Linked DNA regions of Homo sapiens: region 2 is linked to region 1. Evidence: fine-mapped expression QTL. A gene starts in region 1. The other region holds a variant in brackets. All regions are shown on one strand. Distances are from middle to middle.

What was found. PIP is the estimated chance that this variant, and not a neighbour inherited with it, causes the effect.
Region 2: its variant is fine-mapped to the expression of DNAJC3 in whole blood (INTERVAL, PIP above 0.99).

The regions. Positions count from the first base shown.
Region 1 is chr13:95,671,845-95,680,584 of GRCh38, forward strand. It overlaps DNAJC3 (DnaJ heat shock protein family (Hsp40) member C3), which reads left to right and starts at 5,295. Exons shown (of 12, transcript NM_006260.5): 1 at 5,295-5,493. The coding sequence starts at 5,412. It overlaps DNAJC3-DT (DNAJC3 divergent transcript), which reads right to left and starts at 5,081. Exons shown (of 2, transcript NR_132117.1): 1 at 4,008-5,081; 2 at 991-2,824. RefSeq lists enhancers at 4,385-5,232, 4,496-4,595, 5,233-6,079, 5,426-5,475 and silencers at 5,116-5,355, 5,586-5,675.
Region 2 is chr13:95,754,860-95,763,599 of GRCh38, forward strand. DNAJC3 (DnaJ heat shock protein family (Hsp40) member C3) reads left to right here. Exons shown (of 12, transcript NM_006260.5): 5 at 2,785-2,937; 6 at 5,181-5,362; 7 at 5,820-5,939. Among named protein-coding and RNA genes, the nearest start is that of DNAJC3, 82 kb to the left of the region's middle. The variant CA/C (reference allele first, on the strand shown) is at 3,758.

The DNA of each region.
Region 1 (8,740 bases):
GGCCTAGGTTACCTTTCAAGTTTATTTTAAACCTCAGAGCTCTTTAGCCCACGGTGGTGAGGTTTGCCAAAACTGAAGTTCTGACTGCTGGAACGGACGATTCCCCTCTGGCTAAAGCTGATCTAAATGCTCCCTCCATGGGTGTTGGCAGCACTAAGTTTCAAGGCAAAGGCCCATAATTACTGTCCTTTCTCCTTCCACAAATGTACAAATTCTCTCTCAGTGCCACACAGTCACTGCCAGGGGATAGGGGAGGGGTGATGTTGGCAATTCAAGACTGCCTTTCCTACTCTCTTCAACGCCTCTGTCAGCAATATGCAGTTAAAACCAGGTACTGTGATTGTTCGCCTGATTTTTGGTTCTTATGAAGGTGCTTTTTTTGTGTAAATAGTTGTCAAAGTTGGTGTTCCTGTGGGGATGATGATCGGTGGAGGCTTCTATTTGGCTATCTTGCTCTGTCTTCCTCATGTTATTTTCAAAATCCATTTTGATTATGTCGTTTAATTATTGTGTTTATAACATTTATATTTAATGCAATTGTGTTTATATGTTTGGATTTAGATGTGAGAATCTGGAAAATAATAAGTTCTTATATTTGTGTTATTACAAAAATTTTATAAGATCAAACCTATTTAAAGACATGTCATTATGTCACTTAATTTAGAAATTAGAAAGCTTAAATTTTGAAGAGTTTACCCATTGTATATAAAATATAATATTGTACTTAGTTAATTTCTTATAAAATCAGAAGATATATAGCTGCCTTTAAATTAGTATTAACACATTCCAGTGATCAAAGATTCATCTATTTATCGGAAACAGTACATGAATCTTTTAAAATACAATTTTTACACTTTGTAGTCCAGAATTGTAATGTTAAAGACTCTTTAAATCACACTTCAAAACTTTTAGCTCATAATTATAATAACACAACCTATTATTTAAATGCACTCACTCACATTTTAAAAATAAAAAATACAGTGAACAGCATTTTTCTTTTAGATATTTTACTAGATTGTTTGGACTAGAATATAACTAGAATGTGTATGTAGCAATAGACATTTTAAAAACTCAAATAACCTACAATTTTCAAACTGAGAGAAAAAGAAGAACATCAAAAAGAGGAGAAAAGAGCTGGCTTAGGCAACTGTTATCTCTGTAAAGGGCTAATTCTCTTTCTTCTGCAAGGAAAGGAGATAAAATTCGATGCAGAAAAACTCATCTGTACACAAATACACAAAAGAGAGTCACTGCAGTTGATTTAAAAATACTCAGGCCCTTCACAATATTTTAAATAAACTTCTATTGCTGAAACAACTTTCAAGTAAGGGCATAAGGATAATACAGGGAGGTCCCAAATACCCCTTATTTTTCTGTATTGTTAGCATCTTGCATAACCATGGTACATTTGTCAAAACTAAGAAAGTAATAATGGTACACTACTATTAAACTTGAGACTATTCATATTTCAGTAGTTTTTCCACTAATGTCTATTTTCTCTAGGATCCAGTTCAACACAGCACACTGCATTCAGTCATCAATTAAGTTTCCTTAGTTTCCTCTGGTCTGTTACAGTATTTCAATCTTTCCTTGTTCCCCACGACGTTGATAGTTTTGAGGAATACTGATCAGGTGTTTTATAGAATGTCCTTCAATTTTAGTTTGATTTTTTTTTTTTCATGTTTAGACTAGATTGGGTTATAGGTTTTGAGAATACCACAGAGGTGAATTGCCCTTCTCATCACAGTATATTGGGAGTATATGCTATCAACATGACTTGATGATATTAACTTTGACCACCTGGCCAAGACAGTGTTTCCAGGTTTCTGTACTATGAAGTTACTCTCCTCCTCCCTTTCCATACTCTGTTCTTTGGAAGTTAGTCACTAAGTCCAGCCCACACTCAAGGAAGGAGGGAAAATAAGCTCCACCTGATGAAGGGGGACGTATTGTGTTAAGCTGAATAACGGTCCCCCAAATATGTTTACATTCTAATCTCCTGTCATTGTTCTATAGCAAAAGGCAGTTTTTGCAGATGTGATTAAATTGAGGAACTTGAGTAGGAAGAATATCCTGGATTATCTCAGCAGGCCCAATATAATTAATTACAAGGATCCTTGTAAGACGGAGGCAAGGTCAAAAATGACAGAAGGTGATGTGAATACAAAAGCGGAGATTATAGTCATGCGGCCAGAAGCCAAAAAACAACATAAAAGAGGGTGGAAAGCAGAGAAGACAAGATGTGATATAAAAGCCAAATTTTATATGAAGGTACCAAAATTTGATCAGAATCCCAAAATCCTTGAAAATAAACTGTAAATTTGACATATAAGGGTCATTTTTTGTTCCTCAGATTGGCAAAAACTGAAAATCAATTATATCTAGTGATGGTGACTAGGCAGGAATATAAACAGCTGATAGGAATAGAAATTATTCCTTTAGGGAAAGATAATCTGACAACGCATCTTAAAAGTTTAAACAAATTCTTTGATTAAGCAAGTTCAAAAACCTAGTTTTTTTTTTTTTTTTTTTTATAAAGTGTCACTCTGTTGCTCAGTCTGGAGTGCAGTGACATGATCTTAGCTCACTGCAACCTCAAACTCCTGGGTTGAAGCAATCCTCTGCCTCAGTCTCCCTGAGTAGCTAGGGCAACAGGCACGAGCCACCGCACCTGGCTAGTTTTAAATTTTTTTGCAGAGACAGGATCCTGCTATGTTGCTCAGGCTGGTCGCAAACTCCCGGCCTCAAATAATCCTCCCATCTTGGCTTCCCAAAGCGCTAGCATTACAGGTGTGAGCCACTGCGCCCAGCCTAGAAATGTTTCCTAGAAATAAAAGCACAAGTTTGTAAACATAAATGTGGAAGGATGTATATGGTGGCATTAACTTAATGCTGACTTTTTTGTTCTTAATTTGGCACAAAAAGGTGTTTATAAGTGCTCTACTTGTTTCTGAACATTTATTTCTCCTCATAGTTAATTCCTAAACAAATCTTATTCCCTTTACCTACAAAATATGTTCTAGATCTGTTCACTCCTCTCTACCAACATTGTTTTTCCTAGTCAATAAACATAGATCAACCTAATAAAAATTGCATAATACTCTTAATTTTGGATATATCATAAATATGCTACCATTGTTTTTTAAGTCTTTTGCTACTATAATTAACAGTATGAATTACAGTGGAGATTTAATGTTTAACTTCAAAAAGACTCCATAGAGTCTGACGAATGCAAACATATTTACAGTAACTTTTCTTACACTCACTAGATTACTTTGATTTTCGGTTTTATTGGCAAGAGTGATTCGTGAAAACCATGACTAGATGAACATTGGAGGAAACATTCCCAAGCATTAATCACTTAATTTTAGTTTTGTACATTTTTTTCTGTCTAATGTTACCTTTGTTGTAAAATTATCTTTTTTTAAGGAATGCTTTGTAAAGCTTAGTTCTAATATTACAGAATTCATAGTTATGTAATTAATCTCAAAATCACTCACCATTGAAGACCCTTGCTATTTTTATTTCCTATAACACGAAGTCTATTATCTCCTTAATAATTTTTAATTTCCATCCTTAGAACTTCTTCAGCTCTGCTACTTTTTCCTTAAGGCCAGGGTCATAGGCAGCACACTGGTGATAACTCACTGTCTAGAAATATTGCATTTTGTTTACAAAGTTATTTTCTATGTTCAGCATTTTGCTGGCTGCCTTGGGTACAGTACCTCAATTGAATGTCTACACCTGCATATTTGTGGACATTGAAATCATCTACCATTTTTCAGAGACACTACCTTGTGATATAAAAAAACAGAAGCCAAAAAAAAAAAAATCCCAAGGAATTTCTGAAGGAGCCTCTCTTCACTACTCTGCTCTTGTTAGAATAATGAGTAACACTGGTATAACATTCTACAATTTACAAGAATATTTATCTGCTTCATGAAACCTCAAAACAAACCTTTGAGACTATCAGGATCCTAACCACTTTACAGATGAAGATAACTTACATAATAGTTATGGGGTTTCCTGGATCTGACTCCTTTATTCTTCACATTACATTATGTTGCCTTCCCCACAACTAATCAAGGACTCCGTTTTTTCTTTTTTCTTTCTCGAAACCATTTCCTCCATATTAGTTCCCTTTGGAATAGAAGCCTTTTTAAAAGTCCACCTTAGTATATCTTCAGGGAATCACAAATTCACTATGCTATTTATAATTCATGAGTTTCTCTAATGGTATCAAGGCAGCAAATACAGGTGAAGTAATAATTATCCACCTGATAGTACTTAACACACATACCCCGTGTAAAAATACTGCTGGTGTACAGTGTGTGTGTTGGTGACGCCGGAGGAAGTGGCCGTGAACAGGCTTAATGCCGCATTGAGTAACTTCAACCTCATCTTGCTCAGGTTCATATCTCTCCTGAATTTCCCCTGGTAAGCGCAAGATTCAGGATCCGTTCTCACAGTTTTTTGTTTACCAGTTGATGTTGGCTGCATTCAGGAACGCCTTGCTCTCTTAAGCCACAGTGCCTTCCTGGTCTCTTCTTCACAGGGTCTTCCACAATCGCTCTTTTTCCTGGGCACGGTGGTTTGCTGAAAGTCGGGGTGGGGGGCGGGGCGTTCCCAAGTTTCCAGGCCAATTACCTACCTGCCTTAGAGCAATTACGCACTTCTCTCTGGTAGTCCCTGAAATGTTCTAATCATCAGATCGCCCCAGCTTCTCCTGACCGTTTCTTGCTTACGGCTCAGTTCAGACAGTATTTGTTCCGGGACGCTCAGCGGGAGGCGGTTTTTACCGGCTCACTCGAGACCCCAATTCCAGGCGCCCTGCAGCTTCCCTCAGACTCCCCGGGACCGTGTTTGGCCTTCCCATTCGTACGCTGCGGCTGCGCTTTCCTCTCGTAACACCACGCTGGCGAACCTGGAAAGGATCAAATAGTCCCACTCGCCAACCTAGCGCGGCGGGACCGGCCCAAAAGGGCCTTTGCAGCCTGCGCATGCGGACTCGGCGGCCGCCACCGACTCCCCGTCTGCTTCCCTCCGGGCGGCAGCCGCGGTTTGGAGCTTGCTGACAGCTCTGCGACCGGCGGGCGCAGCCTCGTCTCGTGCTTCCACGTTATCCTATCAGGGACGGGGCGGGGCGGCGGCCTCCGCAGCCTATCAGCGCGAACCACGACCCCGGCGAGCCCGGGAGGAAAGCCGCCAGAAAGAAGGCGATTGGATGGCGGCGGCGCTCTGGGGCGTAGCGTCGCCCGGGCCCCGCCCACCGCTGCCTTCCTCTGCTGGGCTCCAGAGCCACTGAGGCCTGAGCGAGAGCCGACGGCGGGCGGGCGCAGCTGCTGCCGGAGCGCCGGCGCGTGCTGGTGGGCCACACACCTTTCCTCCTCTTCACTCGCGAGCCCTCGGACATGGTGGCCCCCGGCTCCGTGACCAGCCGGCTGGGCTCGGTATTCCCCTTCCTGCTAGTCCTGGTGGATCTGCAGTACGAAGGTGAGTCCTGCCCTGCCCCGGCCAGGAAGTGGGCTCCCGGACCAGGCCCCCCGCGCTTTCCCGTCTGCGCCCGGGCGCCTGTCCCGGAGCGGCTCGGGAGGTGGGGCGAGCGCTGGGGGAGCCCGCGGCCTGGCTTGGGCCTGAGCCCGCGCCCGGTTCCGGGTTTGTCTGGGGAAGAATCGAGGGGACTGGCGGGCCGCGGGGCCGGGACAGCGGGTTTGGACTAAGGAACCGGGCCGCAGGAGTCGGAGGAGGCGGGGTGCGGGGGCACCGGGCTACGACTTCAGGAAGTCCTGGGACGCGGAGACTTGGGCAGCCTTTGGGTCCTGGCCTCGCTTGGGACCCTCGCTGGGCGCCTGGGGACACTGTCAGTCATTGGTGCTGGCTGGGAGGAGGCACTAAGGTGGCCAAAAGACTTCCTTCGCTCTGGAGTTCTTGGGTGGGGAAGGAGTGTCATGTCCGGCTGGGAGTTGGAGGGGACAGTGTTGACTATTTAAAAAGTGTGTAACCATCCCCATTAAGATGCACTGTCGTGTAGAGAAATTGTTAGTTTGGTGCAATGAGGAGCCGCTGTTGGAATTCCATCTCCCGGACGGCCAGGCACTGAGTTTGTGGTTTTACAACTCCCAACATGGTGTCATTCAACGTATGGCTGGCATTACTTTTCCAAGTTCGCTGTAAAAAGGTTCCCTTAAAAAGATACGAACGATTAAATTTCACTTCAGTCCTGCAGACTGGAATGTTGGCTACTCCAGAATAGCGAAAATAGAGGGCTGTCCTATCTTAGATGGCAGCGGGGAGGAGTAAGAATTAAAGTTGATAGTGCCGATTTAACGAATGCTTCTGGCGCGGTTACTGTGCGAAATATTCGAGTGTAATGACACATCACATGCACTGATCTATTTTCATCCCCATAAAAAGGGCTAGTTGTCAAGGAGGTCAAATTAAACCTTTGAGTATTCCATTCAAAGGGAGCGAGGAACTAAAAATTGGGAATTGTTTATAGTGAATTCTTCTGAAAGTTCTCAACTTTTTTTTTTAAAGTAGTACTCCCCAGTTTTTAGGTGTCACCCATAGCAATGGGCTTTTGCTTTTGCTTCCCCTGGTAACCATATTTTTTGAACCCCAAATCAGAACACGTAGTGTGGCAACATTGGGACAAAGAATTTGACAGTGAGGCTGCCCCCAGAAAAATCTAGGGGATTGGAATTTGAAGGTCTGTACCACTTTAATATGGGTCATATATTCTAGTTCTTTTGCATTTTCAAAAGCTTCATTCCTCCTGCCCCCGCACCCCACCATCCCTCATCTGTAGTATTTATCTCCAGTTATCATTAATAATTTATTTTGGACACTTAAGAGAAAGTTGCCTATGTTCTGTTTAATGGTGATTTTTTTTTTTAAGTTACAGAGATGCACAATTTTGAATGATTGCTTTTCCCACTACTTTTTAGAATTGCTGTTCTGTATATGAGTCTGTAAGGACTCTTAACTCTTCATTTCCCTCCTGTGGTATTTTCCATAAGAAAACCACATTTGAGAGCTTTTCTGTGTAGGAGGCACTGGTGACATTTCTCAGAGGAGTGCCAGAGTGTCTTCTTTAGGACCATTGTCTGTGTAAAATAGCAGGGACTTAGTACAGGTAACAGAAAAAGGAAAGAAAGGAGCCTTTCTGTAAGCCATATCTTATTCACGAAAGCGTGTGGTATTCATTCCTACTTTACAGACCAGGGAACTGAGGCTCCAAAGGTTTTACTAAAGTTCATTTTGTGTGCACGCTGGAGACAGAAGTTAAGTAGTTGACAACATCATGTGAGTCCAAGCACTTTTAAGTGATGGCAGCTGAGAAAAAAAATCAGCACTTTTTTTTTTTTTTTTTTTTTGTAATTAACAAGAAGGTTATTTCCTGGGAGGTTTAATACAGTGGTTCTCAAACTTGAGTGTGCATCAGAATCGCACATGGAGGGCTTTTTAAAACAGAGTGCTGTACCCCACTTACAGAGTTTGATTCATTAGGTCTTGATGGGACCTGAAATTTTGCGTTTCTAGAAAGACCCTGGATGACCACACTTGAGAACCACTGGTGTAATAAATTATATAGAGGAGTTAAATTAGGTGTCTGCTATGTATTTGACACTGGATTTGGTGATAGGGATATAAAGGTAAGAACTCTGACTTGAATTAGCAAACCGTTAGCCCCTGTTTTCCCAAATAAATTGTGTCTGGATTCACTAATCTCATAGTTCTCTGAAAGGCAAATGGTGCTACTGCTAGGCCTGAGGCTTAATAAAATTGTGTTGTATTAAGGATTTTTGTTAAATAGGTAGGTTTTAGCTGCTCTTGTCACACAAAAAGTAATTATGTGAGATGATAGATATATTAATCTGCTTCACTCTTATTAATCTGCTTCACTATTGTAACCATTTTATGTGTGTATATCTCATAATACTATGTTGTAAACATCAAATATATACAATACAATTCACTTTTAAAAAAAGAAATGAAGGAGAATGGTTATGAGAGAAGTGAATGTGGAACTAAGAGTGGCACAGGATGGGGAAGAGATAACCTAGTGTTTTTCTGATTTTGAAATATTTGCCTTTGTTTTCTTCTAGATTTTTCTGTTAATTGTCATCCAGAGACAGAAAGTATATATCATGAATTGAAAGTTTGAGTCTTTTGGCACCCTCCCTTCTCAAAGGCGTTTGAAAGAGTGAAGTCTAAAGCACTAGATGAGATCGAATTTTTGGAATAGAAAGAAAACTTTAGTAGTATCTGCTTTAGTATTCTCATGTTACAGATAAGGAAGTTATTTCATTTCTTTGCTAATGGTTTGTCCTCTTGGTGACTTGAGTAGCAACACAGCCTGGGAACGAAACCTTTTTTCTCTTATCATAGTTTTATCTCTTTTTCTTCCTTAACATGCTATCTGGACCCAATTTTTCTTTATTTCATTGAGCTGATTAAACCATATATTTTGGCCATGGGGAAAAGAATAGTTGAAAATATATAGTTGAAAATCTATACGTATAAAATATTGTGATAAGTTTTATTTGAACCATGATAAGTTTTATTTGAACCTAACCTATTAAAGGTATGTTTTGTCTTTTCTAGGATTTTCTTGACATTATCTAAATAGGGAAAGAATAAAGTAGCAAAAATGAGTGACTTTAAGTAATTTAAATAAATTAAGTATCATAAAAGGTGGTCACATATTTTCTAGAATTATTTTAAATTCTTTAATAAG
Region 2 (8,740 bases), 83 kb after region 1:
GGCAGATCATCTCTTTGAACAAGCCCCCATCCCGTAGCTATTACGGGTTATTTTTCCAGAAGCTCAGTGACCAGGATACATAGTGAGAAGTAAAAAATATAAAATATTGTTACAGGAAGGGATTTGGCAGAAAGAGTCAGAAATGTGAAAGCCCTAAGGAAGAGAAAGGATGTCAAGAAACATGAAAAAGGGAAGAATGAGGGAATTGTCAGCAAGGGCCATTCTCTACATGCAGGTGTAGAGAAAACAAGGGGGTGATTGAGAGGAGTCAACAGCCTCATGGTAATAATAAAAATCTTCATCTCAGACGGGCACAGTGGCTCATATGTGTAATCCCGTGCTTTGGAAGGCTGAGACAGGAGGATCACCTGAGGCCCGGAGTTGGAGACCAGCCTAGGCAACATAGTGAGACAACCCTGTCTCTACAAAAAATAATAAAAAATTAGCTGGCTGTAGTGGCATGCACCTGTAGTTGCAGCTACTTGGGAGGCTGAGGCTGGAGGATTGCTTGAACTGAGGAGCTGGAGATTGCAGTGAGCTAAGAACATGCCACTACACTCCAGCCTGGGAGACAGAGCAAGACCCTGTCCCCTGTCTCTTTAAAGAATAAAAAAATGGGCCTGGCTCAGTGGCTCACGCCTGTAATCCCAGCACTTTGGGAGGCTGAGGCGGGCGGATCACAAGGTCAGGAGTTCGAGACCACCCTGGCCAATATGGTGAAACACCATCTCTACTAAAAATACAAAAATTAGCCGGGCATGGTGGCGGATGCCTGTAGTCCCAGCTACTCAGGAGGCTGAGGCAGGAGAATTGCATGAACCCAGGAGACGGAGGTTGCAGTGACCTGAGATTGCACCACTGCACTCCAGCCTAGGTGACAGAGCGAGACGCCGTCTCAAAAAAAAAAAAAAAAAAAAAAAAAAAAAGAATAAAAAAAAATCCCCCAAAACCCTAATTTCATCTGGCTTGACTCTCTTTGAAACTCTCAGGCTTCTAAGGAAGCCCCTCGTTTCTCCAACTCCTTTCTTACTTCCTTGGAAGAATCCTCTCTCCCTCTTCCCCACCTCTCTTCTGGCCTCACAGAGGCCTAGATGACCTGAGCTCACTCCCTCTTTCCTGTTTCCATTACCTGAGCCCTCCAGCCTCTGTCCCGAGATTTAGGGCTTCTCCTCTCACCTTCCAACAAGAAAAATTGTGTGGAAGAAATTAGACTCCAATGTTTGAGAGGAAAAAAAGGTGCAAATACGATCCTGAAGAGGCAGTCAGTCTTTGATACATTCTATCTAAGAGGGTCAGTAGTGTACTCATAGGAAACACGTTATCAATAAACTTTTACCCAGAGCAAAGTGACAGTGCACACACATTCATACTCTCTCCGATGGGGTTTATCCGAAGTATTCAAGACCACCCTAAGGATGATAAAACAGACAGAGACAAGCATGTCTGACTCCAAACAACACCCTTAAACTGGATGATGCAATCATTCCGGGAAACCCTCCCCCAGAGTGAGTGGAGGTTACCAATTCCTAGTTACCAATGAGTACTTCAAGTCCTGTTCTTCACAAGTCAAGGGTTAAAACAGACAAAATAGAATAGCTAAAATAGAATAGCTAAAATATCCTAAAACACAAAATGGACAAGTATAAAACCCTTACCAAGAAATAATATTGATAAAGTTTCTCATTTGGAGTGTTCTGTCCCACCAGGTTGGTAGTGGGAGTATATTTTAAAAATTAATCCACTGAAAGGAGGAATATGATTGACTCATTGAGGAGGGAGATTTCTAGAATTAACTTTCCCTTGTCTGTACCTAACCCAAAATTGGAACCCTTTAGTTATAGTTTGCATCTTAGTAAGAATATTAAGATTTCAAAAATTATTAAATATAAACTACAATCTTAACCTCCCCTCCCTCAGGCTTAAAAAAATGTAGCTACCTGGTTTTCTGAGATAATTATTTTTTGTCTGGAGGAAGAAATTGTTAAGAGTCCCTGTGCACAGGGCTGGGGTTGGGAGTGGGGATGAACTGTAAGTAAAAACAAGGGATCTTACTGGGGTGATGGAAATGGTCTAAAACTGTGGTGATGGCTGCACAACTTGGTAAATTTATTTTTTAAAAAATCATAGAATTGTACATTTGAAATGAGCAATTTTATGCTATATAAATTATGTCTTTATAAAGTTATTTTAAAAAGAGGCAGTGTGCAGATCTCTTAAAGCCACATCATGCACCTTTTAGTAAGGTATTACTCTTATTTCCTTCTAAATTCTTTCTTGTACTTTAACCCTTTTGGTATCAGATCTTTTTTTAAATCTTACAACCTCTAAAAAAGCTGGCCCCTTCTTTCAGTTTCCCTATGTGTTTCATTATTTTGGTTATTTTATACTTAAAAAAATACTTAGGAACTATAAGTAGAAGGCAAAATAAATAAAACTCAAGTTAATTTATTCTGCAGAGCTATATGTAAGAAAGTGAAAAACGTGCTTTCCTTCCTCCGTTCTTCTCTGTCCTTTCACGTGCCTACATGTATTTGCTTCCCGGTAAGTTTTTGGGACCCAGGTCTTCTGAGTCTAGATCTGTTGTTCATGCTCATGGACCATATCGGTAGAAATCAAGGGCCTTCCCTGCTGCATCCAGTCATCAGACAAGCCAGTTTTTCCAGTATCTCTTTACCCTTTTTACCCAATGAACTTAAGTATTTGGAATGGTTTACCCTTGTGTATATTACAGGTATCAGATTTAAGAGATTAAAAACTCTGCTTAGTTTTTTATTTTCCTTATAGCTCAAATCTAATCCAAGTGAAAATGAAGAAAAGGAAGCACAGTCTCAACTTATAAAATCTGATGAAATGCAGCGTTTGCGTTCACAAGCACTTAACGCTTTTGGAAGTGGAGATTATACTGCTGCTATAGCCTTCCTTGATAAGATTTTAGAGGTAAGTTTCTTAGATACTGCAGTTGACCAGCCTGACACTTATTGTAAGGCACATTTATATACTTCGACATGTCACATACCACAAAGACCTAGACAGGAGAAAATCAGGTTGGTCCTTGGGCTTTTGCCTCTTAAGTATAAAATAGTGTTCCTAGACAACAAAATTTGGACTGAAGTTTTCAGTAAATGTACTGAATGTGCTGTGGCATGAGAGTTAAATATGTTTATAAATTGCTTGCTTTGCTATTTTAGTTGATTTTGTATTTTTTTGGGAAGAAAACTCTAGCGGTTAGATAATGGGATAAAAGATGAAAAAGATGGTTGGAGTAAAAGGAAAAATGATGTTCGGGAGGAAAGAGGAATGTTTAGAGAAAAATTTCTAGAGAATAAGGCAGATAAAGAGTTGATAGTATGTGCCTGTAGTCCTAGTTACTTGGGAGCTGAGGCTGGAGGATCACTTGAGCCCAAGAATTTGTCGCTGCAGTGAGCTGTGATTGCTCCACTGTACCCCAGCCTGGGCGACAGAATGGGACCCTGCCTCTAAAAATATTAATAATTGGCTGGGTGTGGTGGCTCATGCCTGTAATCCCAGCACTTTGGGAGGTCGAGGTGGGTGGATCACTTGAGGCCAGGAGTTTGAGACTAGCCTGGCCAACATGGCAAAATCCTGTGTCTAAAAAAAAAAAAAAGAAAATTAGCTGGGTGTGGTGTGCATGCTTGTGATCCCAGCTACTCGGGAGGCTGAGGCGCTCGAACCTGAGAAGCAGAGGTTGCAGTGAGCCACTACACTGTAGCCTGGGCCACAGAGTGAGACTCCGTCT[CA/C]AAAAAAAAAAAAAAAGTTAATAATAATAATGGTTGATAGGATCCAGAGAGTTCTAGCTAGGGAAACCTGAGTCTAGGTTTCCTTGCCTCTGAAGGATTTAATGACAACTGATTTCCGAAGGAAGTCTACTGAAATATTCAAATGGAAGCAGTCGTAATTCACATTTATTTGTGATTTTCACAGTATTTTGATATACAGTTTCATTTAATTTTGGCTCTAAACTTATGATGTATGTAGAATGGGCAATTTGTTGATAATTTTACAGAAGATATTGTGATATGGTCCAGTAGAATTCATGTTTTACTGGGTTATTTTGTTTATGCTTTTTTAAGGAAATATAGTTTACATTTTTACATTCCCATAGACTATCCATTTTGAACTTAGTTCATTGTCCATGATATTTATGTATAATGTTGGTTTTGATATTTTTGTATATGTGAAAAGTCGATACGACTTTAGAGCAGCTCTAAGAAATATGCAAAGATACTTCCACCAGCCTTATTGATGAGCTCTTGGGTTTATGATTTGAAGAATACTATTGTGTTTCCTAAACCCTTATGGACTTTTTGATAAAATAGGAATGGTGAAGCCTCAACCTCCTGCCCTCTCACGGTATTTTTTCTTTCTTTCTTTCTTTTTCTTGATATGAGGATTTACTTTTAAGGCGGTGACATTTACAGAAGATAATTTCTTAAAAAAGGTTTTTGTTTAGAGACTGGGTCTCTCTCTGTTACCTAGACTGGAGTGCAGTGGTGCGATTGTAGCTCACTGTAACCTTGAACTCCTGGACTCAAGTGATCCTCCCATCTCAGCCTCCTGAGTAGCTGGGACCACTGGTGTGTTCCACCACACCCAGTTAATAATTTTAAACTTTTTATAGAGATGAGATCTTGCTTTGCTGCCTAAGCTGGTCTGGAATTACAGGCATGAGTCAATGTGCCCAGCTAAGAACATAATGTGGTTATTAGCAGAAAAAAGTATTTTGCCAATGTAGAACCTAGGTTTTATTTTTTTGACTACAAATTAGAATTGTTGATTAAGTATAAAAATCTGATAACAGAATATTCTCTTCAAATATGCTTCACTAGGAACAACCCTCCAATAGTAAATGCTATGTTTTCTTATTTTCAGTGTCTTAGAATTATATAATCGAAGGAGGTAAGAAAAGGGCCTTGTTATTATATATATCTCTTCCCCCATTAGAATTCATTTACAACATTTTTGGAGAAACTATTTTGTCACATCAGTTTTGTCACATTTAAATTGTATCAGATTTTAAAATAATATTTGCACTATATAAGTCATCACATCAATTGAGAATGTTTTATGTTGATAAATACGTAGATAAAAAATACGTGGAATGCAACAATGAATGTGCATAATTTATTCTTTCTTAAAGTCTAGTTCTTTTGTTCCTCAAGGTTTGTGTTTGGGATGCAGAACTACGGGAACTTCGAGCTGAATGTTTTATAAAAGAAGGAGAACCTAGGAAAGCTATAAGTGACTTAAAAGCTGCGTCAAAGTTGAAGAATGATAATACTGAAGCGTTTTATAAAATAAGCACACTGTACTACCAACTAGGAGACCACGAACTGTCCCTCAGGTCAGTTCTAGTGACACACATGTCTGATCTTTTTTAATTGTTGGCAGTAAGATTACCTCATCTTGTTTTAACATTTTAATATTAAATTAATAAGATGATGGTAGTTAAGGCTGTTTTTATATTGTATATCCATTTATATATTTTGTGTTATTCCCAAGTTACTTTAATTCCACATAGTTTGTTTTCATGAAGCTGCTTATTAAACAGGAAGGCTCTTATATTTATAGAAACAAAATGGAATGTTTACTATATAATGCTAGTAAGTCATTTTAATTTGAATTAACAAATGTATGCATGGTACAATGCCACGTATAAATGTATATAGTAAATTATAAGTCTCAGTATGGTTTTTGTTTAATCGTTGCAAACAAAAAATACTTTTATTGTGATTTCTGTGGAAAACTACTCATTGATTGTTTTGACATGGAGTATTTTCCTTTTTTAAATACATGAACAGTGAAGTTCGGGAATGTCTTAAACTTGACCAGGATCATAAAAGGTGTTTTGCACACTATAAACAAGTAAAGAAACTTAATAAGCTGATTGAGTCAGCTGAAGAGCTCATCAGAGATGGCAGGTGAGAATATGGTTGTTCCAACTGTCCAGCCATTCCTTATGTGCGGGGCTGTGGGCACAAGTGAACTACAGAACTGCTCTTTTACTTCTCAGCCATTGAGGGTGGGGTATTCTAGATAGCCCTGGGCCTTAGCAAAACTACCAGAATTGGACATTTTTGGAATAGGGAAGAATATAAATAATAGTAACTGTGTAGTATCCTTACCAGCAGAATTACTTGTACTATACCAAATATTTATTATCTCCTATATCAGGCTGAGCTATGTACTGAGGGTGCAGACTTAAACTTGACAATAGTTTTTGTTCTTAAGAAGTTTATAGCATTGCGTGGGAGACAAATATATGAATTGATTATTAAAAGACAATATGATACCAAAGTGATAGAATGTACATAGGATAATTGGAGTACCAAAGAGGAGTATTTACTCCAAACCAGGATGGTAAAGGCAAGGAGTAAAAGAGGAGCTTTTTTTTTTAGAGAAGGTGATAGATATTTAAATCCTAATCCTAAAGAATAAGTAAAAGTGGACAGAAGTAAGAGGCTGTGTCTGTGTGAGTGTTGTTTGTAGGGGGTTTATAGGCTGGGCAGGAGGACTGAAAAGAGTAGAGGGCACTGCAGACAAAACTGCCTAATAGAAAATAGGCTCCAATTCCTCTACTTTTAGTAGCTTTGTAAGTTGCCATCATGAGAATGCTTCACTCGGTTTCCCCCAACATCTTGCAGACTATAACGCCTTGCAAAACTATAGTACATTGTCACAATCAGGATATTGACGTGGGTGCAGTCAAGATACAGAATAATTCCATCCCAACAAGGACACCTCATGTTGCCCTTATAGCCACACCTACTTCCCTCTTGTTCCTATCCCTTCCTTAGCTTGTGGCAACCACTAATCTATTCACTTGTAGAATTCTGTCATTTTAAGAATGTTACATAAATAGAATCATACAATGTATAAACTTTTGGGATTGGCTTTTTTTTTTTTTGAGACAATCTCACTATGTTGCCCACCTGTTCACAGATACAGTCATAGTACACTCAAGTGATCCTTCTGCCTCAGCCTTCTGAGTAGCTGGGACTTCAGATGCATGCTACCACAGCTGGCAGGATGGGCTTTTTTCCCCCTCATTCGAATTGTCTGGAGATTTATCCATATTGTATCAATAATTCCTCCTTGTTTACTGTTGAGTAGTTTCCATGGTATGGATTTACTGCAGTTTGTTTAACCATTTATCCATTGAAGGACCTGAGGTTGGGAGTTTGAGACCAGCCTGACCAACACGGAGAAACCCTGTCTCTACTAAAAATACAAAATTAGCCGGGCGTGGTGGCGCATGCCTGTAATCCCAGCTACTGCGGAGGCTGAGGTGGGAGAATCGCTTGAACCCGGGAAGTTGAGGTTGCGGTGAGCCGAGATTGTGCCATTACACTCCAGCCTGGGCAACAAGAGCGAAACTCCGTCTCTAAAAAAAATGTTTTCTGTTTGCAAGTCTGTCCTTTTCAGGTCCTCTGGCTAGACAGAGCAGACTTCTGCAGGTTTTTGTTATTGTCGTTCTGTACCTGTTGGCGTTTCTGCATTGCTGGAATCTTCAGCTCCAAGTCTGGGATATATGAAACAAAAAAAAAGAACCCAGGGAACGTCTTACCATGTTTTCCTCAGGTCCTGAGTCACTAGCTAGTCTGTCTCTTTTCCTCCTTTGAAAGTTTTCTATTTTAAAAAATATACATATAATCTCTAGGGTTTTTTAGTTGTGCTTAGCTGGAGCACTTGGGACAAATACATCTATTCCACTTTCCCAGAAGCTGGCTTTTTTGTTTTCTTCTTTAAGTTCCAGGATGTATGTGCAGAATGTGGAGGTTTGTTACATAGGTAAACGTGTGCCATGGTGGTTTGCTGCACCTATCAACCCATTACTTAGGTATTAAGCCCCACATGCATTAGCTATTTGTCCTGATGCTCTCCCTCCCCTTGCTGCCTGCCCCACACAGGCCTCCGTGTGTGATGTTCCCCTCCCTGTGTCCATGTGTTCTCATTGTTCAGCTCCCACTTATGAGTGAGAATATGCAGTGCTTTGTTTTCTGTTCCTGCGTTAGTTTGCTGAGGATGATAGAGAAGCTGGCTTTTATTTTAAATGTTTTAGTTAAGCCTGTGTTTTAATACATTGGCATATTTACATATGAAGATTGTAGCACTTTGGGAATAGTGTGCCACCATGGCATAGAAACATATTTTTTACTTTACTATTGTTGAGGGAAATAACTGAGTATATAACAGGATTAGTACTTTTTACTGGTTTAAAGAAAATGCTGAAATAGCTTTTATTCTTAGAAAGCTTATACAGTTGGGAATTTAATCAGGTACCTTTTGTGTGAACTACGTTGTACTTTGTTGTAAATACTGACATTAATTATATAAAATGGCACGTAATGGGTTCCATTATTTTCATGGAAGTGTTTACTGACCAAGAAATAAAACTTGATCTCTGTATTGTTCAAGGTGCTCAGTGTAAGTCAGACTTCAACAGGGTGTTTTACTCAGGTTTGGAATTCTGAGCAATGTTTCTGTAAGGAAATTCTTCTGGTTTGATTGGTACTTATACTCACAGGTATGCTTTGTTCTGTCCATCTGCATCTCCTATGGTCATATGTTTTTATTTCCTAACTCTTAATTATGGAGTGTACCTTCTATGGGACTCTAGATTAATAAGGGAAAAGCCGAATCTGAAGCCATGGGCTCATCCAATTGGATTGATTAAGCAACACATGGTGAAGAGGGGAGGAGCCTTTCTACAGCTCTGGAA